Regions from separate parts of the Homo sapiens genome. Here region 1 is linked to region 2. Evidence: fine-mapped expression QTL. Tissue or cell type: monocytes after LPS. Region 2 holds a variant in brackets; the other region holds the start of a gene. All regions are shown on one strand. Distances are between the middles of the regions.

Region 1 (10,945 bases), 220 kb before region 2:
TTATACATTTACCATATATATACATATATATATGGTACATGTATATATATACATATATACATATATACATATATATGTATATATATGTATATGTATGTATGTATTTCTATCCAGTATAGTTTCATTTTGCCTAGTTTTGAACTTTATATAAATAAAATTAAAGTTGTCTTCTTGGGTTCTTTTAACTTATGCTTGTAAGATTCATTTGCATAGCTGCATGAAGGAAGAGTTTTATTTTTATGGCTATGCAATATTCCATTATATGAATATACTACAATTTGATTATTCATGCTGCTGTTAGTGGACCTTCGAAGTGTTTCCAGTTTGAGGCTATCTTGAACATGCTGCTATGACCTTCTTGGACATGTATCTGGTAGAAATTTGCACCCGATGTTTCTCTAGGGTATATACCTAGGATTGGGAAAAGAGCCAACATGGTAGCTGCAACTGTTATTGCACTTTTTTCTTTTTTCTTTCCTTGAGACAGGGTCTTGTCTTGTCACCCAGGCTGGAATGCAATGGCACAATCATGGCTCACTGCAGCCTCAACTCCCACTTCAGCCTTCCAAGTAGCTGGGACTACAGGCACATGCCATCACACACAGTCTCGAACTCTTGGGCTCAAGTGATCCCCTCACCTTGGCCTCCCAAAGTGCTGGGATTACAGGCATGAGCCACCATACGTGGCCTTCATTGTGCTTCAAATGGGTGCTTCTCTAATATCTAGTCAGAGTAACACTTTTTCATGTTTATTGACCACTTCGATTTCCTGTTTTGAGATAAAACTGTTCAAGTCTTTTGGCTATTGTTTTATTAAGTTAATTGTCTTCTTCATTGCAAGTTTTTGTTTTGTTTTGTTTTGAGAGTCTCACTTTGTTGCCCAGTGAGGCAATCTCCACTTACAGCAACCTCAGCCTCCCCAGTTCCCCAAGCGATTCTCCTGCCTCAGCCTTCCGAGTAGCTGAAGTTACAAGTATGTGCCACCATCCTGGCTAATTTTTTTGTGTATGTTCCTAGTAGAGACAGGTTTTCACCATGTTGGTCAGGCTGGTCTCCAACTCCTGACCTCAAGTGATCGACCCGCCTCGGTCTCCCAAAGTGCTGGGACATGGGTGAGCCACTGCACCTGGCCAGATTTCTGAGTTCTTTATGTAATTTGAATATAAGCCCTTTGTTGTTTATGTGTATTTCAAGCATCTTTGCCTACTCCATGAATGGTCTTTTGTTTCTCTCAATTTAGATGTGTCAAATTCATCAGTCCTTTTCTTCATTATTAGTACTTTATATACAGTACTAAAATCTTTACCTATCATGAAGATATTCTTCCATTATATATTCAAATCATTATTCCTACTTGGATCCATAATCTACCTAGAATAGGTTTTTTGATATTTTGGGAGAAGAAGGTCAAGTTTTATTTTTCCACATAGAAAATATTTGTCTCTATAGGACACCATAAAGGCAATTTATTATCCCAGTACCATTTATTGGGGATAAAAAAAGAAAATAGTCTTTTCCCTATTATGATGAAAGATGCAACATCCATCATAAATCAATCCATCCATGTGTATGTCAGCGTCCACATGCGTGTGGAGTCCTTATTTCTGGTCCATTAGTCCATGTTTCTATGCCTCATCAATACCACGCTATCTTCATTCCCATGGCTTTGTTTGCAAAAGCAAGTCTTCCATCTTATTCTCATTCTCTAATGGTGACCTGGCTATCATTAGCCTTTTGTTTTCCAAATATACTTACAATCAGTTAAGTTCTATAAAATACCGCTCGGTGCAATGAATCTATATAGATCAATTTTGGGAGAGCTGACATTTTTACAATATTTAGTCTTCTTCCAATCTATGAACATGGAATCTCTTCATGTTTAGGTCTTCTTGAATGTCTCTTCATTCAGTTTTATAATTTTCACCAAAGAGGTCTTTCACATATTCTTTTAGATTTACATTTAGTTATTTGATCATTTCCATGCCATTTAAGTATTACTTTCTAAAAATTTCTTTCTAACAGTGTTGCAGTACATGTAGAAATATGATTAATTTTTAAATTGATTTTTTCTAGCAAATCTGTAAAACTCTTATTAATTATGGTAATTTACCTGTAGATGATTTTGGATTGTCTACGTATACTATCACTTCCTCAAATCATTACAATTTTGTTTTCTCTTTTCCTGTCTTTATACCTTTCATTTCCATTTCCTACCTAACTGCACTGGCTAAAACTGCTAATGTACTGTTTGTTGAACAGAACTGATAATAATTTGTATTCAGGCATTATTGTAATGTTTTGCTCTCAAAAAAAGGTTTTAACACTTTTCCATTAGGTATAATGATTGCTGTGGGAATTTTGTGATAACTTCTATCAGATTAAAGACACTCTTTTTATTCCTAGTCTGCTAAGAGTATTTTTTAAGTAAATAAGGGTAAATTTTAGGCCTTCATTGTTTCAATTAAATAATCACATGATGTTTCTTCTTTAGTCAGTTCATATGATGTGTTACAGCAATTTTGCTTTTCAAATGAAAAGTCAACTATGTGTTCCTAGAATAAACCCAAATTACTTATGATATATTAATATCTATTTGCTTATTGATTGATTTGGTTTGCATCAATATTCAAAAGTTTATTGACCTATAATGTTTCATTTCTATATTGTCTCTATTGGGTTTGGCATGGAGGTTATGCTAGTCCCATAAAGGGAAGGGTAGCATCCGTTCTTCAGAAGAAACTATATAGCATACTTTAAATATTTTCTACAGATTTCTCCTTAATGTGGTCATCAAAAACAAAAGTTGAAATTTTGTGGATTCAGCACATTCCCTTGGAACAATAGCAGCTTCCTAACTAGACTCTCATTATTCCTTCAACTTGATCTGATAGTCACTTCAATGCTGGTAGTTCTTCGAGGTTTGTAAGCTTTTTAGATATCTTAAATAGCTTTGATTACTTTTAATGAGAAGATTGCATGAAATTCTAGGTCACTATTAATGAAATTTCCTAATCAATCTTTATTACATGAGTGAATGCATATATTTTACTCCTTTTTTTTCATATGTGCAGGTTTTTCTTTATCCCTTTCTTCTATTTTTAAGTTAAACTAACATTTTTAAAACAAAACAAAATGTTGAAAATTTTTAATAAATTAAATTATGCCAAATGCTAAGGCACTAATAAAGGTGCTATACTATTCTCTCTTTGCTCCCTTCTTCTTCACGTTACTTTTCAGATGCATAAAGACGTTTTATAGAGCCTGTACAAGAGAAGAGGTTAAGCTCTGTGCAGCTCTAAAAATAAGTGAAAAAATTATATATTTATGTATAAGGAAAGGAACCCTAATTTTCATGAGATTTTCAAGAGGGCCTATTATACTCCATAAAGACTGGGAATTGTATCTCACACCAATCAGAATGGCTATTACTAAACAGCCAAAAAATAACAGATGCTGGCAAAGTTGCAGACAAAAGAGAACACTTATACACTGTTGGTGGGAGCAGTTCAACCATTGTGGAAAGCAGTATGGTGATTCTTCAAAGAGCTAAAAGCAGAACTACCATTCGATCCAGCAATCCCATCACTGGATATTTACCCAGAGGAATATAAATCATTCTACCATAAAGACACATGCACGCAAATGTTCACGGCAGCACTATTCACAAAAGCAAAGACACGGAATCAATCTAACTGCCCGTCAATAGACCAGATAAGGAAAATGTGGTACATATACATTGTGGTACATATACATATGCAGTCATAAAAAAGAATGGACTCATGACCTTTGCAGGGACATGGGTGGAGCAGGAGGCTATTAGCAAACTAATGCAGGAAACCAAATAATACATGTTAGTTAGCAAACTAATGCAGGAAACCAAATAATACATGTTCTCACTTATAAGTGGGAGCTAAATGATAAGAACTGTGAACACAAAGAAGAAAACAACAGACAGTGGGGTAAGAGGAGGGAGAGGAGCAGAAAAGATAACTATTGAGTGCTGGGCTTAATATCTGGGTGATAAATATGTACAACAAATCCCCGTAACATGTGTTTACCTATGTAACAAACCTTCACATGTACCCCCAAACCTAAAATAAAAGTTAAAAATAAATACCTAAGTAAAAGATTTTCAAAATAAAAGACAGAAAAAAAGAGATTGGGAATTGTATTAGTCTTCAATTCTGCTATTTCTGCAAAAATTATACTGGATTATAACGGTTTTCTGTGCATACACAGAATCTTCTAAATATTTTAAGTGTTTTTAATAATCCATTGTGTTACTCTGCAGTAATTTGCTGTTCTTTTCTCCCATTGTTGAGTATGCGGCTCTAATTCTTTTATAGGTAGCACAGCAATGAATGTACCTCCTTCTCAGAAGCTTTTGCTCCTGGGATTAGGTTGATGGGCCTCTAATGTCACCAGTGAAATGGGATATTAGATATTTTCCAGCTAGGATACGACAGCTCCCAATAAAACCAAATTACTAAGCCTTTTCTGCAAGCAAGGAGCCGTCTGGAACATAAGGACTTTAACCTTGGGTAGGAGACAGGCAAGCAGAAGTCTTCAATTGTGTCACAATTTTCACTGAGGACTCAAGTGACCTAAGAAAGTAATTGTGATTGTCAGAGCCTTGTTCTTCCTTTTCTTTCTCCAGCCGCACGCTTCACCTACTCAGGAGAGTGCCTACGCAATCTGACTTGACAGCTTCTAGAAAGAAATTAGAGCAACAGGGGTCTCAGCAGGGTGGTCTTGGGCCAAACACTGAAAGCAGGCAGGCTTACCCTTTCCTCTTCTGCCCCCTTCAACTTTTTCCTGATGTTCTTACCCACATCCCTCACCACACCACACCCTTTCATTCATCCTTGTCCCAGACTTATTAAGTATATACAGATAAGCAATCCAGGGAACTTGCATTCATTAGGAGAAACCCAGAAATTCAAAAGCAATAATGATCTAATCCCAGAGGAGTAGAAAACAGGAAGTGGGCAGCTGCCAGCTTTCTTGCTTTGCTGGAGTATTCTGGAATTTGATGGGTTGAGGGTTCTGGACACAATGCCCCAAGCCCCTTCCTTGTTGTGCTGGGTTCCTATTTCTGCTCTCGGCACTGACTTAGCAGCTGCTCAAGAGCTCACTATGTTGGCTTGGATTACACGGTCTCACCCACATCTCCGGCAGTTTGTGGGCAAACTTCCTGAGCAGCCTTGGGTGATGAAACCTTTCATGGTAGCAGGAGAATGGGACTGTGAATTCTCAATCCCCTGTCCCCACCCCTTCCTTCCTCTCTCAGGGCCTTAAAGTCTAGGAGGAGGAAGCACAGCAGCAACTGACTGGGCAGCCTTTCAGGAAAGATGCAGCCACTCCTGCTTCTGCTGGCCTTTCTCCTACCCACTGGGGCTGAGGCAGGTGAGTGACCATCCCCACCCTCAGAGGCCTGACCTCATCCCATAGATTCTTGAGCCAAATTGCCTTGGTATATCCTAATTCTGTACTGTTGAGCAAGTTATTTGAATTTGTGTTTCCTCATCTATAAAATGAGAATAATATTAATACCGATCTTGCAGAGTTGCCATGAGAGTTAAATAAGTTAGAGTATTTAAATGTCTTGGAATTGCCCGCACACTATAAGTGCTATAAAAACATGCTTTGTGTAAATAATTTGGCAGCATGTGTCAGACCCTACCTAGGAGGTAAGAATACAGCAATAACAGTACCATCAGCTCATGTCTAGATTTTTAAACACCAGTCCCACGTGGTCTTGAATTGGACTCAGAGGGCTCTGGGAAGCTCCATGAGGATAAAAGTATAAGGGAACTTCAGGAACAATCCTGTACTTACAGCAAAGCATTCTCCTCAATACCTGAGGCTGAAGCTGGCCTTGCCTGGAACAAGGGTTGTTCTCCCTCTTTTGGAGAGGAGGAGGGAGGTGAGGCCTAGGATGGGGAAAAGGGCTCCTTTCAAGACAGCAGTGTTTCCTGTAGAACCCTGGAGCCCCCTCCCAATCTGCTGCCCCATAGACTCCAAGCCTCAGCACCATCTCCTCCCTCTCCTGCACCCTCTCTCCTGCCGTCCCCATCTTCCAGCCTTTCTGGAGCCACCAATCTGGTACCCACATTGCAGGTTCAGCAAGCATAGAGCTAAGTGCCAAATGCTTCCTTCCAGGGGAGATCATCGGAGGCCGGGAGAGCAGGCCCCACTCCCGCCCCTACATGGCGTATCTTCAGATCCAGAGTCCAGCAGGTCAGAGCAGATGTGGAGGGTTCCTGGTGCGAGAAGACTTTGTGCTGACAGCAGCTCATTGCTGGGGAAGGTGAGGAGCTAAGGAACTTCCTGGCCAGCCAGGAACACAGCCCTGCGGAGCTCTTCGGTGGAAGAGCCATCTGAAAGAAGAGTTGTAGCAATGAAAGGGTGAAAGAAAGACCAAGTGAGTCTTTGCGGGAGGGAACAGGCCAGTGTAAATGAGGAGGAAAGGAGGATAAGATCAAAAAGAGCAAGAGGAAGAGATGGAAGACACATATTGGGGCTCAAAATATAAACTCAGGCTATTTATCAACTTAATCTGGGGAAGCAAACCTGAAGGCAAGTACCACCCTGTCATCCCTAGCTCAGAGCTGCTGAGAAAGAGGATACAGCTGAGCCCCAGGGCCCTCCCATCCCCTCGATTCTGGTTAGCTGCAGTCTTGCCCTCCCCGTGCTGTCTGCCTACCCTGCAGAGCTGGTGGACCATAGCTCCTGCAGCCCAGACCTACCTCTTGCTTTTGCAGCAATATAAATGTCACCCTGGGCGCCCACAATATCCAGAGACGGGAAAACACCCAGCAACACATCACTGCGCGCAGAGCCATCCGCCACCCTCAATATAATCAGCGGACCATCCAGAATGACATCATGTTATTGCAGGTACCACCTACCTGGCCCTCTGGCTCCTTCCTAGTGTGTCCGGGGACAATGGAGGAGGAAGTGAGGGCAAGGCTCCGGGGTGGCGGGGAGGGCATGGGATGTGTACTGCACCAGCGACCCCCGAGCCTTGGCTGGAGGCCCCAGCTGAGCGGGAACGCCTACATTCTTCCTCCAGCTGAGCAGAAGAGTCAGACGGAATCGAAACGTGAACCCAGTGGCTCTGCCTAGAGCCCAGGAGGGACTGAGACCCGGGACGCTGTGCACTGTGGCCGGCTGGGGCAGGGTCAGCATGAGGAGGGGAACAGATACACTCCGAGAGGTGCAGCTGAGAGTGCAGAGGGATAGGCAGTGCCTCCGCATCTTCGGTTCCTACGACCCCCGAAGGCAGATTTGTGTGGGGGACCGGCGGGAACGGAAGGCTGCCTTCAAGGTAAGGCATGGGCATTGGCCAACACACCCCGGGAGAGAGGGGCCCGTGCAGAGCCAGGCAGTGCGAACAGATTCCATCCCCACAGCCTCAGCCTGGCAGCCAGACCAGGGTGGGCTGGGGATTGTTTTCCCCATCAACCTGGTCTCTGGGGGAATAGGAGGAAGACCCACAACACATACATAGGCAACATTCTCCTGGAGAAGGGAGAGGTACCTTGACTCAGATTGGGCTGGAGACAGTAATTAAGGCAGAGCTGAAGTCCAGCGACCGAAAAGATCCAGAGGCTTGGCTCCTGTACCCCACCGATCTTCCATCTCACACACACCCAGCAATTGAAGGGGCCCACCCACCCCTGCCTTCCCTGAGAGCCCGGAGCTCAGGGAAGCAGGAGCAGGGAGGCCTGTCTCAGTCTCCCTTCTCCTCTCTACCTACAGGGGGATTCCGGAGGCCCCCTGCTGTGTAACAATGTGGCCCACGGCATCGTCTCCTATGGAAAGTCGTCAGGGGTTCCTCCAGAAGTCTTCACCAGGGTCTCAAGTTTCCTGCCCTGGATAAGGACAACAATGAGAAGCTTCAAACTGCTGGATCAGATGGAGACCCCCCTGTGACTGACTCTTCTTCTCGGGGACACAGGCCAGCTCCACAGTGTTGCCAGAGCCTTAATAAACGTCCACAGAGTATAAATAACCAATTCCTCATTTGTTCATTAAACGTCATTCAGTACTTAGTTTGTTTGGATTGCTACAACAAAATAGCACAAATTGGGTGGCTTATAAATAACAAATTTATTTCTCACAGGTCTAGAGGCTAAGAAGTCTAAGATCAAGTCACTAGCAGATTCAGTGTCTAATTAGGGCCCATTTTCTGGTTCACAGACAACCATCCTCTCCCTGTGTCCACATATGGCAAAAGGGGCAAGGGAATTCTCTGATGTCTCTTTTACAAGGGACCTAGTCTCATTCAAAGAGCTCAGCTTTTACGACCTAATCACATCCCAAAGGCCCCACCTAATGCCATCACATTGGGGATTAGGTCTGGGAAACATAGGGAAACACTGTCTCTACACAAAAATTTTAAAATTAGCCAGGCATGGTGGCATGTGTCTATAGTCCCAGCTACTTGGGAGGCTAAAGTGGAAGGATTAGTTGAACCCACGAGGTTGAGGCTTCAGTGAACCATGCACTCCAGCCTGAGCGACAGAGCAAGACACCATTCCAAGAAAGAAAAAAAAAAAGACTGGCAGGCCAAAAAGACAGAACTGAAATTCCAAAAAAAAAGACCTACTTTAGTGTATGAAAAAGGTGGCATCTCAAATCACTGGGAAACAATGGATTTTTAATAAATAGCATTAGAACAACTAGATAGATATTTGGAGGGGATGGAAGCTATAATTGGATCCATTCCTCACACCATACTTCAAAATAAACCTCAAATGGATCACAGATCTAAATGCAAAAACATTAAACCATACAAGCACTAGAATAAAGAAAAATTAAAGAGATTTTGCTTCTTTAAAAATAGCTAACAAACACCCATGTTAGTAACAGCATTAATCACAATAGCCAAGGATGGAAGAACCATAGCGTCCATCACCAGCCCGCATGCTTGTCCTAAACCTTGTGAAAGAAAATAGAATCTCAGGACCCAAACTTCACTATTCCAAAGGGAAAGTTAAGCTTGGGAACTGACCCATGGGGGGAAAAAAACTGCTTTCTATTTATTTCCAAACAGCTATAATCCACAATCCTGTGGCATCACCTCATTTCCTCTACTTGCTTTTCCACATGTTTACTTTATCTTGTGTAAGATGTAGATTTACTGAGGCTAATCAGAACCTCACAAGAACATAACCATCTGCCTGAAGTCCTACTCTCTCTCCCATTTTTACCTTCCTGCTTGCTCTTTCCCCTTTAAATACTGAAGTTCCTAAAACCCTTTAGGGAAAAGCACAGGTCATAGATGCTCCTGTGGCTTGTATTTTTTCCCCAGGTGCATCTTCAACCTTGGCTAAATAAACTTCTGTTAGATTGAGACCTATCTCAGTCACTTTGTGGTTTATAGCCCTTCCTTGCGCTATACCAACCCCACTGTACTTATAAGCCAGCATTTTCCTCACCAATGTGATGAAGATCTGTCTGAGAACTTTTGATACTCTGAAGGTATATAAAACACCTCACAAAATGTTGACCTAAATAACAATACATTTGCCCTGAAGATTAGCCCATGACTGTCTACATCAATATTATATTCAAACAAAAGATTACTGAAATCACATAATTTAAAATTAAGCTTTAAACACCTGCTGAAAGTAACTACACAGAATCAGTCAGGAGGTTTTCCTAGGTAAGTAGAAATGTTAATTACTCCTTTCAGTGTGACATTTACCATCTGAACTTTTGCAGTTTTCCTAATCTTAAATGAAATAATCCCTGAACAGACATTTTATCAAATCCAACAGGCTATATACAGAAATGCTTTGATGAATTTGACCATTATTTTATGTGTATCTCTTATCAGAAAGTTATTTGTCTAATATTCAGTGTAAGCCATTTATCAACAAAATTTTAATCAATAATACATCTTTAACAATCCTCAGTCATTCTCTCTGTATTTACTAACTGCCTACCCATAAGAATTATCTATTACTGGCATGCTCTGGGGGATAACAGTCTCATTATTAAATGTTTGCACTGACAAATGGAAAGAATACTTGCTAGTAGAAAAGTCCCCCATTCAGCCCTTCCTCCCTGTGGCATTTACTTAGGGCCTCAGAGCACTGCCCAGTCTCAGGACTCAGTCCCCAGGAAGCCCCGAGGGCATTCATCTCATCTTCAGGTCTTTCTCTGCCAGTCAGCACTTCCAAGGCAGCTCTTTGTCTCTGCTGCCCTACTGAAAAGGTCTCTACAGACCCCAGGGTACTCACCTCCAGAAGGTGACCATCCCAGAAGCCAGATCCACCACTTCTAACAAATCTGCACTCTTCCCTGTTGAGTAAACCTCATCAGCAGAACTTTGGCAAGAAAGCATTTTGCACAATGAAAACCAGTGCAAAAGAACACAATTCTTTCTTTTTCCACGTGCAGACTTTGTGCGTTAGAAGCCTTATCAACTTGAATGGAAAGTCATAAAATTATGGTAAGCTCAGGCACAGAAACCTCACTGGGAACTTCTCCCCCAACCCAACAGCTAAGGCAAAAAGGAGAAGGATTGGGTCAGGTGATGATATTTCAGAAAGAGAAAGTCTTTCTCCTCTTTCTCTCTCTCTCTCTCTCACACACACACACACACACACACACACACACACGCACCCATTCACCCACACTAAGCCATTTTCCTTTTCAAACAACCAAAGGCCAGAGAAGGGGGAGCAGAGAAGAAAGAGTCTGTGTAGATGGAAAATCTGAAGATTCTGAGTTGAGCTCTGCCTCTTCCCGTTCCATGTGGAGCCTTCAGAGGCCCTACCTGCAAGGCCAGGACTGTGTCTGACATGTACATGTAAATGAGAAACCTCTCTCTACTCCAGAATCTCAAGTGTTGCTCCACAAGATTCTGCAGTTGCCTGAAACTGCTACTCAACAGTACAAAGAAGGTCATGGATGACTAGATTCATCAGGG
Region 2 (10,945 bases):
GCCTCATCCCATTGTGGTACCAAGCTCAGGCTCAAAAGCCTAGATCTCATCACCTAGATCCTGGAACTCAAGTGTGAACAAATGCCATATAACAAATCACCCCCAAAATTTAGTGGCTCCATTAAGATACATACTATCTAATTGGGAGATAAGACGTAAACACATGAAAAGTTTCACAATAATAAAAGAGCTTAACAAAAATAATTCAAGAGATGTAATAGAGCAATTCTATCAATAGGAGACGTTTGCTTGGAAGCAACGCAAACTGACTTCTTGTAACTTAAGCAAAAGAAGAATATTATAAAGGCAGACCTCACAGAACCAAAGAAAAGGAGAATCAGTCAGGCTTCAGGAAGAATAGGAACCAGAGTGTTTCTAGGGAACTAGTCAGCAAGACCTGATGCACAGCCTTTGCATGGTGCTGGGCATTTTCAGTTCCTGGTATGTACCAAGTTCTTCCTGCTTCCAGTACTTGGCAGATGCTGTTTTTCCTGCCCAGATCTCTCTTTCTACACAACCCCCTTTGCCTGACTACCTTCTACTCATCTCTACATCTCAGCTACCATCTCAGATCTTCATAACACACATCCCAATTATAATAAGATAACTGCATAGGCTGAGCACGGTGGCTCACACCTGTAATTCCAGAACTTTGGGAGGCTGAAGCAGGCAGATCACTTGAGCCCAGGAGTTTGAGACCAGCCTGGGCAACATGGAGAAACTCCATCTCTACAAAAAATATAAAAATTAGCCGGGCATGGTGGTGCACACATGTAGTCCCAGCTACTTGGGAAGCTGAGGCAGGTGATCACTTGAGCCCAGGAGGCAGAGATTACAGTGAGCTGAGGTCATGCCATTGCACTCCAGCCTGTGTGACAGAGTGAGACTCTGTCTCAAAATAAATAAATAACTGTGTAAGTACTTATTTAATGTCTGAGTACCCCACTAGAGTGGCAATTCTCTAATGAGAGGTACCTTGTCTTATTTCTCTACCTACATCTTTACTTTTTGATTGATCTAATTAGCAAATACCTGTGGAAATAAATGAAGGCTAACCAATGAAAACAGGCAAATACTATTTATTCAGAGCTCTCTATCACAAGTTAGTCAGCCACCATCACTTGCATTTTGGCAGAAACTCAAAAGCAGGCAGAGGAGTGGGAAAGCTTTATAGTGGACAAAGGGAAGGCTTCAGGTATGCCCTGACTGGAGGCTGTGGCATGGGGAAGTCATGTGTGGCCTAACTAGAAGTGGGGCATCATTTCACCCGCAAAATGGAGTAAAGAAAAAAATATTATAGAAATGGTGCATCATACAAGATTGGTTAGGAATGCATATTTGGCTTTCTCTGATTGATCCTAAGTTGGAAGAGGGGACAAAAATTTAAAAAGCTGTCAGTTATTAATCAAGTCCTGGCTCTTTGGAGCAGATTTTTGCAAGGGTTGTTGTTTGGATTCCTGGGCTGGTTGCTAGAGATAGTGATCTGACTTTTCACAAGTCTGACTTTTTTTTTTTTTTTTTTTGAGACAGAGTCTCGCTTTGTCACCCAGGCTGGATTTCAGTGGCATAATCTTGGCTCACTGCAACCTCTGCCCCCTGGGTTCAAGCGATTCTCCTGTTTCAGCCTCCTGAGTAGCTGGGACTACAGGTGCCTGCCACCACTCCTGGTTAATTTTTCATGTTTTTAATAGAGACAGGGTTTCACCAGGTTGGCCAGGCCGGTCTCGAGCTCCTGACCTCAGATGATCTGACCACCTCGGCCTCCCAAAGGGCCAGGATTACAGGCATGACTTTTAGGCAGTTGGCTTCCTGGGCTGGTCATGATAGATAATGGGTTAGTTTCTTGGACTAATTGCTGCATATTGTGGGTCAGGGTTCTATTTTTATATATGGCCATTTTCCATCTGTATATTCAGTCTCTTACATTTATTGAACATCTATTATGTGCCATACACCATGCTAGGCTCTGGGATACAAAGATTGATGAAGATCATGATTGACGATTGAAAAGTTGACAAGATATGGTCTTATCAACCTCCTCCTGTCTTACTGCTGCACCATCCTTAGCATCCCACTGCATGGGAGATGACCACTTATGGTGCAGCCGTCACATCCATGTTTAAACCAACAAGAAGAGAAAAAGCAGAAAAATGCAAACTCTCTTCCCCCACACACCATTTATATTTACTATCGATTGGCCAGAATTTAGTCACATGGCCACATATAGCTGCAACAGAGGCTAGAAAATGTATTTATTCCAAGTTGACGTATGTCTGGCTAAAAAATGACAGGATCTATTACTAAGGAAGATGGCGAGAAAGGTTGTTGGACTCAACTAGCAGCCTCTGCAAACTAGGGAAATGGGGTTTTGGGATTACCCATAGATTCCAGTTACCAATATTTTCTCTTTTGTCTCTTTCTTCTACTATAGGATATTCTTTTTTCTTCTTTTTTTAAAAATAATTTTAATGTTTGTTTTAGATTTACGAAGTACATGCACAGGATTTTTACATGTACTGTAGGATATTCTTGATCTACTACATAATTACCCTCATTCTGTACTACACAGAACAAAACAAGTTCTTTTCATAGTTAAAAAGAAACAGCTCTGTGAGATTCACTGTTATCTATTTTAAAGATGTTGTTTATGGTTACCTATGGCAACTACTCAGAGTGCTCACTCTGTGATCAGGGACACTTTTTCTCTTAGGTCTTAGTGTCAGCAATAACTATGCTTCTCCTGGACCATCAGGCAAAAGGCAAGACCAATGAGTTTTTTTATTTTTATTTTTATTTTTATTTATTTATTTTTGAGACAGAGTCTCACTCTGTGGCCCAGGCTGGAGTGCATTGGCACGATCTTGGCTCACCACAAAATCTGCCTCTCAGGTTCAAACGATTCTCCTGTCTCAGCCTCCCAAGTAGCTGGGATTACAGCTGTGTGCCACCACGCCCAGCTAATTTTTGTATTTTTAGTAGAGACGGGGTTTCACCATGTTGGCCAGGCTGGGTCTCAAACTCCTGACCTCAAGTGATCCGCCCTCCTTGGCCTCCTAAAGTGCTGGGATTACAAGTGTGAGCCACCACACCCGACCCCATTGAAACTTTTAAAAGGGCAGATGTTGAGCTTTGTTGTGGGCCAAGCACTTGAAATATACATTGTAGACCATTAGTGCAATTAATTTGGTCCACTCTAAAATTATGTTCTGTCTTTTTGGATAAAATCCATGATCCAATTAAATTCATGACCACGTAACATTCATGTTCATGGTCACATAGAATTCTCCAGATTTTGCCTTAGAAAGTTCCCATGGCTCCTTCTGGGCATCATTCCTGTTTATTTTGATGTTTTTGCTTCCCACCTTCTGGTTTATCCTAGTCAGAGGATGAGCCTAAGGAATTGAGCTATAATAGCAAAGCAGATTTCGCTCTCTCCTCTGCAAGAAGAAAACAGTGAAAATTGTTTCAACAGGGACTATATTTATTGTCTCGCTCTGTCACCCAGGCTGGAGTGCAGTGGCGCGATCTCAGCTCACTGTAACCTCTGCCTCCCAGGTTCAAGACATTCTCTGCCTCAGCCTCCCAAGTAGCTGGGATTAAAGGCGCCCGCCACCATGCCCGGCTAAGTTTTTGTATTTTTAGGAGAGACAGGTTTTCACCTCTTGTCCAGGCTGGTCTTGAACTCATGATCCACCCCCCTGGGCCTCCCAAAGTGCTGGGATTACAGGCATGAGCCTCCATGCCCAGCCCCAGATCATTATTCTTACTTTCACTGCAAAAAACTGGTGAGGTTGTAAACTTTGCTGCAATTCAACAACTTGCAAGATCAATTTCTTCTTCTTTTTTTTTTTTGAGACGGAGTCTGGCTCTGTCACCCAGGCTGGAATGCAGTGGTGTGATCTCGGCTCACTGCAGCCTCTGCCTCCTGGGTTCAAGCGATTCTCCTGCCTCAGCCTCCTGAGTAGCTGGGGCTACAGGCACCTGCCACCACGCCCAGCTAAATTTTGTATTTTTAATAGAGATGGGGTTTCACCATGTTGGCCAGGCTGGTCTCAAACTCCTGACCTCAAGTGATCCTCCCGCCTCGGCCTCCCAAAGTGCTGGGATTACAGTGCAAGATCAATTTCTGAATTCAGTTTTTAGCTGATATCTGCAGAGAGAAGGGTGCCAGGCAATGGTGCTTTATTTTCTTCCGGGCTTTGAGGTGGATATTCTGAGTTTAACATTTTTATTCTCTCACCTTTAGCTATCCAATGCCATTGGAAACAAAAATTCAGCCCTAGAATCCCACATTCCTCATCATCTTTAAAGTGTTCCATAGGAACTGTTACCTGGTCCTTCAGGATCTCATCTAGCTTTCCTTGATGGAATGTGGAAGGAGTCTCATTGGGCAAAAGCTCAATCTTTCCCCCCTATCCAATTCCAAATGCCCCATACATCCTCTGAGGTTTTGGTGCATACAGTCCTATCTATAGAGTGGCAAAATTAAGTAATCATTTAATTTACCATCAGTGAGATACTATACTGAGGTTAAATGTGCATTGTACTTTCATCTAGTGACTAATATATATGATTGTTTAACCAATACCAGAATACGTGGTTGTAAGAAATAAGATTTGGCAGACAGAATAATGGCCCACCCCCAACCCCCAATTATTAGATATTCCCGTTTTAGTTCCCAAAAACCTATAAATATGTTATCTTACATGGCAAAAGGAACTTTGTAAATGTGATTAAGTTAAGGGCCTTGAGATGGGGGATTATCTTGAGTTATCTGGATGAGCCTAATATAATCACAAGTGTCCTAAAAAGTACAAGGGGAAACTGAGTGCTCATGTCTATAATCCCAGCTACTCAGGAGGTCAGGGCAGGAGGATTGCTTGGGGTCAGGAGTTCAAGACCAGCCCAGTCAACATAGCAAGACCTCATCTCTTAAAAAAAAAAATATATATCTATGTATATATATATATGTATATATGTATCTATGTATATATATATGTATATATGTATATATGTATATATGTATATAT[GTATATATA/A]TGTGTGTATATATGTATATATGTGTATATATGTATATATATGTATGTATATATATGTGTGTGTATATATATATGTGTGTATATTTATATATATATATAGGCTGGGGGCGGTGGCTCACACCTGTAATCCCAGCCCTTTGGGAGGCCAAGGCAGGTGAATCATTTGAGGTCAGGAGACCAAGACCAGCCTGGCAAACAGTGAAACCCCATCTCTACCCAAAATACAAAAATTAGCCAGGCGTAGTGATGCGTGCCTGTAGTCCCAGCTACTTGGGAGTCTGAGGCCAGATAATCACTTGAACCCGGGAGGCAGAAGCTGCAGTGAGCAGAGATCGTGCCACTTGCACTCCAGGCTGGAGACTCCATCTCCGAAAAAAAAAAAAAAAAAAAAGATAGTGGAATGGGAGGCAACAGAAGACAGTCAGGCGGAGCTGTGTCTGTGGGAAAAAAAGTCACAGAGAGATGCAGAGTTGCTGGCTTTGAAAATCTAGGAAGAGGCCATGAGTCAAGGAATGTGGGTGGCTTCTAAGAGCTGGAAAGGCAAGGAAACAGATTCTCTCCTAAAGCCTCCAGAAGGACCACAGCCCTGTCAATGCCTGATTTTAGCCCAGTGAGGCCAGTGTTGAACTTCTGTCCTACAGAACTGTAAGATAATACATTTGTGTTGTTTTAAGCCACTAAGTTTATGGTTATTTGTTACAGCAGCAATAGGAAAGGAATACACAAGGGGTGGTCTCATCTCTACAAATGCTGTCACCGACCCAATCTCCACAGTTTTGCTTCGAATCCCTATGACTCTCTAGAGATTTTACAATTCAAGGAATAACTACTTGCACAGGGGACTCGAGAGTGGTTCCCCTACCACTGCCCATTTTAGGCCTTGTACCATTAAAGGAACTGGCAGGCCAGGTATGCTGGTGCATTCCTGTAATCCTAGCACTTTGTGAGGCTGAAGTGGGAGGATCATTTGAGCCCAGAAGTTCAAGACCAGCCTGGGCAACATAGTGAGACCCTGTCTCTACAAAAATTTTTTTTTTAATTAGCCAGACGTGGTGGCACATGCCTGTAGTCCCAGCTACTTGGGAGGCTGAGGCACTAGGTTTGCCTAAGCCAGGAGGCTGAGGCCGCAGTGAGCTATGGTAATGCCACCACCCTCCAGCCTGGGCAACAGCAAGACCCCATCTCAAAATAAATAAATAAATAAATTTAATTAAATAATTAAGTAACTGGCAAAACAAGAAAAACAAAAATATGTCACAGTATTGTTTAGGTCTACTGTGATTGACCCCAACCATCATGGGGAAAAAAGGTTACTACTAAGCAGTAGAGCCCAAAAGGGTATGCCTGAAACTCCAGGCACTCCTCTAAGTGCTTCCCACCATGCCCACTGCTGAGGGTTAGCAGAAGATTGCTACAAGCCTACATAGGAAGGACTGTCAAGTGCTCAAAACCCTCCAGAATGAAGGTAGGCCACCCTGCTAAGTATAGCAGCAACAAAACACAGCAGCCAGCTAAGGGGCTGGTCAAAGACAAGGTAGAAGAAAACAAAAACAGAAGCAAACTACCAGTTACCAACCTGTCCAATGGCCGACATGAGGGTGGTGTCTTTCGTTCCGTTTTCTGCTTGAGTGTCCAATGAATAAAGTGTTACCTCCTTCCCTTACATTTCCTCTTCCTGCTTATTTATTTATTTATTGAGAAAGAATCTCACTCTGTCGCCCCGGCTGGAGTACAGTGGCGTAATCTTGGCTCACTGCAACCTCCACCTCCTGGGCTCAAGAAATCCTCCCACCTGGCCACCTGGAACACCGCAATCCCAGCACTTTGGGAGGCCAAGGTGGGTGAATCACCTGAGGTCAGGAGTTCAACACCAGCCTGGCCAACATGGTGAAACCCCATCTCTACTAAAAATACAAAAATTAACTGGATGTGGTGGTGCATGCCTGTAATCCCAGCTACTCGGGAGGCTGAGGCAGGAGAATAGCTTGAACCCAGGAGGCAGAGGTTGCAGTGAGCTGAGATCGTGCCACTGCACTCCAGCCTGGGCGACAGAGTGAGACTCTCTCTCAAAAAAAAAAAAAAAAGAAAAGAAAAGAAAAAAAGAGAGAGATCCTCCCACCTCAGCCTCCTGAGTAGCTGGGATTACAGGTGTGCGCCACCACGCTGGGCTAATTTTTTGTATGCTTCAGCAGAGACAGGGCTTCCCCATGTTGGCCAGGCTGGTCTCAAACTCCTGACCTCAGGTGATCCACCCACCTCGGCCTCCCAAAATGCTGGGATTATAGGCATGAGTCACCATGCCTGGCCTCCTCTTCTTGTTTCAAATAGAAATAATCATAACTTTTATTCTTTCTTCTATTTTCTCCCTGTTATAAAGAGTTAATTAGTGTGGCTTCCTTAAAGAAAGGTAGATTCCCACAGAGATTCACATCATATGAACTAATAGATAGAAAGGAAACTTACAAACTAAACAAGCAAAAGAGGTTATGTCTTTAAAACAAAATCATGTCACTTCTCAGAATGTAAACTAAGGGCAGAATCTATTTCTGATTCATCTGTGTCTTTCCCTATTGCATAACAGAGTGCCTTGTGCTTTCCATGTGGTTAATAAATATTTGCTGAATGAGGGAGGAGGGAAGGAGGAAGGAAGGAAGAAAGGAAGGAGGGAAGGAAGGAAGGAAGGGAGGGAGGGAGGGAGGGAGGGGGAGAGGGAGGGAGGGAGGCTATTCCTCCCTTCTAGCTCATATTAACATACTTCCTTCTCCCGCATGATTCGCCATCATGCAGCCTGCTGTCTTCTCTCCTCCATCCCTGCTTCTCCCCAGGAACAATCTCAACCTCTTACCTTGCCCCTTCTACCTTGCGGATCCCTGTTCTATTGGTGTAACTTCTTGTTTCTCCAAATCTTTCAGTCAAAACTTCCTCCCTCTCACCTTACCTGAGACCTGGACATTCTCTCATAACCTTTGCACAGACAGGCCATCCTTTCACATAACAGAGAAGAAAGTGGAGTTTTCCTTTCCATGGCCTCATAGCAGCTTTCAGAATCACTCTTGATCATTTTCACTTAGAAACTCCTCTGAAGGTTGTGCCACTCATTTCATTCACTCATGCCACCCTGTCCCTATCTGAGTCATGGCCACCTGACAACCTAAAGGACTCCTCTGGTGGACTTTGGCCCCTGGCTCAGGGTGTCTCTCTACCTCATCCCTACCAGCCACCTGGGGACTAAGGCTATTCCAATACTCCAGGTTATGTTCCTCGATCTAATGACCCTTACATCTATAATTTAAAATACGCAACATACTGTCCACTTACCAGGGTTTAGGAATGCTCCATTCCATACTACCAAACTCTGAAATTACACTTTTTTTTTTTTTTTGAGATAGAGTCTCGCTCTGTCACCGAGGCTGGAGTGCAGTGGTGTGATCTCAGCTCACTGCAAATTCCGCCTCCTGGGTTCAAGCAATTCTCTGCCTCAGCCTCCCAAGTAGCTGGGATTACAGGCATGTGCCACCACGCCTGGCTAATTTTTGTATTTTTAGTAGAGACAGGGTTTCACTATCTTGGCCAGGCTAGTCTTGAACTCCTGACCTCATGATCCACCCGCGTCAGCCTCCCAAAGTCCTGAGATTACAGGCGAGAGCCACTGTGCCCAGCCTTGAAATTCCCCTTTTTGACCCAAACCTTGAGTTTCTGTGCCCTGCTCTCTCCTCACCAATTCTGATTTCCATTACTTTATTCTCCTAGACTAACAACCCCCTATTCCAGCGTTAGTGCTCTCCCTGTCCAACCTGGGATCCACGTGAGCCATTTCAAAAGTGTTTTCACAAGCAATCAAGATTTCCTCAGCCCTTAACTTTCCATCACTTCTCAAACTGAGGTAAGCCAAGCATGCATTTCTCTGCCTCCTGGTCTGGAGAAAGTTTCACAATCATGATGATTGATTCCATAATAAATCACTGCTTTCTAACTTCGGCTGGACCCTCGCTGCTGCTCCACAAACATTTTATCCATCTGTAGTTATCTCTAGCCGACTTCACCATGATCAACTAATTTGCATCAGATCAACCCTCTGAGAGCAACTACAAAAGCTGGGTACAGTTATTAAAAAAATTTTTATTTCAGTAGCTTTTGGGGTACAAGTGGTTTTGGGTTACATGAATGAATTGTATAATTGTGAAGTCTGAGATTTTAGTGCACCTGTCACCCAAATAGTGTACAACGTACCCAATATATAGCTTTTTATTCCTCGCCCCGCTCCCACCCTTCCCACATCTGAGTCTCCAATATCCATTATACCACTCTGTATGCCTTTGCATAGCTGGGTACAAATTTTTTTAAATATGTTTGAAGACAGTGGAAATTCATCAAGGCAGGAGGCTTTGAAGGGCCAACGTCCCAGAAGAAAGGGAAAGCATGTTGAGGTGAGGCCAACATTCTGCATGGTCTGTCCCATGGGGGATATTTATCGATTTGTGAGAGGCAGCCAGACTCAGCAGGAGATAGTGCCTAAGAGGTAGGAGGCTGAGAAGAACTTTCAGTAGTCTACAGTCCTGAGAAAACAAAAATGGGAATTTAGGACCTGTTAAGGAGGAAGGACCTGTTAAACACCACAGGATATCGTTAGCGTCCCTGAAGAACTATATTCTAGGACTAAAGCTGTATCGGTCAGGGTTTAATCAGGACACAGAAACCACACAGTCATTTGAAACAGGAACGTTTAATATAAACAAGTATTGTGCTCACTTTGGCAACACATATACTAAAATGATACAGAGAAGAATAGGATGGCCCCTGCACAAGGATGACATGCAAATTCATGGAGTGTCTCATATTTTTATTTGCAAAAATAAAATAAAGAAGCATTAACTCCAACAGGGTGTTGGCATACTAAGGGATTAGCTAGTAAGAAGAAATGAGAATTCCAAAGGACACAGGAACAGCAAATTTAAGAAAAACCCACTACTCCTAGGGCTGAAATAGCTGTGAAATTGGCCAAGCAGATGCCAAAGCAAGTTATTCATGGGGAGGTGCCTTAGCAGTTGCAACAGGCTGAGAAGTCACCCAGAAATGTGCCAGGGGAAGCTTTTGGCTGCTAGGCACTGCTGACCACTTTGCACTGCCTGAGTGTACACTGAAGAAATTGCACACGCTGCAGGAGTAAGGCAAAGGAGCAAACCAAAACCAGGAAGATGGACTTCTTCCTGCTCCAGTGTTCCTCCAGCACCCACTACTGACAGCGCTTAACACTATGCCAGCTGGCAAAAGAGAGATACGATATTCCCCCTTATCTGTGGGGATATGTTCCAAGACCCCTAGTGGAGACCTGAAACCACAGATAGCACCAAACTCCAGCCAAAGAACGCCAAAGTTACATTTTCTTTTCTTTTATTAGACAGGGTCTCACTCTGCCACCCAGGCTGGAGTGCAGTGGTGGGATCACAGCTCCTTGTAGCTTTGTTCTCCTGGGCTCAAGCGATCCTCCCACCTCAGCCTCCCAAGTAGCTGGGACTACAGATGTACGCCACCACACCCAGCTAACACATTTTCACTTAAAGCAGCACTTTATGGTTTCTTGTTGGCATATCCAAATTGTTAGCAACACTACTCTTTGCTTTGGGGCCATTATTAAGTAAAATAAAGATTACTTGAACACAAGCACTGAGATACCCGGACAGTCGATCTGATTACGAATACCAACACTAAGTGAATAACAGGCAGGTATCGTAGACAGCATGGATAATTCCCTTGATCGTTCTTTATACTTAACCTAACTTCCATCTCTTTCCCTCCCTTCACTACTAAACCTCTTCATTTTTTATTTGTTTATATTTATTTTTGCAAAATCAGAGTCTCCCTATGTGGCCCAGGCTAGTCTCAAGCTTCTGGGCTCAAGCAATCCTC

The links. PIP is the estimated chance that this variant, and not a neighbour inherited with it, causes the effect. A credible set is the group of variants that fine-mapping cannot tell apart.
Region 1: it holds the start of CTSG, and the variant in region 2 is the best candidate, but not a certain one, in a credible set for the expression of CTSG in monocytes after LPS (Kim-Hellmuth 2017, PIP 0.82).

Annotation. Positions count from the first base shown.
Region 1 is chr14:24,570,630-24,581,574 of GRCh38, reverse strand. It overlaps CTSG (cathepsin G), which reads left to right and starts at 5,325. Exons shown (of 5, transcript NM_001911.3): 1 at 5,325-5,406; 2 at 6,163-6,310; 3 at 6,765-6,900; 4 at 7,076-7,330; 5 at 7,765-8,057. The coding sequence starts at 5,352. The coding sequence ends at 7,938.
Region 2 is chr14:24,350,992-24,361,936 of GRCh38, reverse strand. It overlaps the pseudogene LOC124903413. Among named protein-coding and RNA genes, the nearest start is that of NFATC4, 12 kb to the left of the region's middle. The variant GTATATATA/A (reference allele first, on the strand shown) is at 5,031.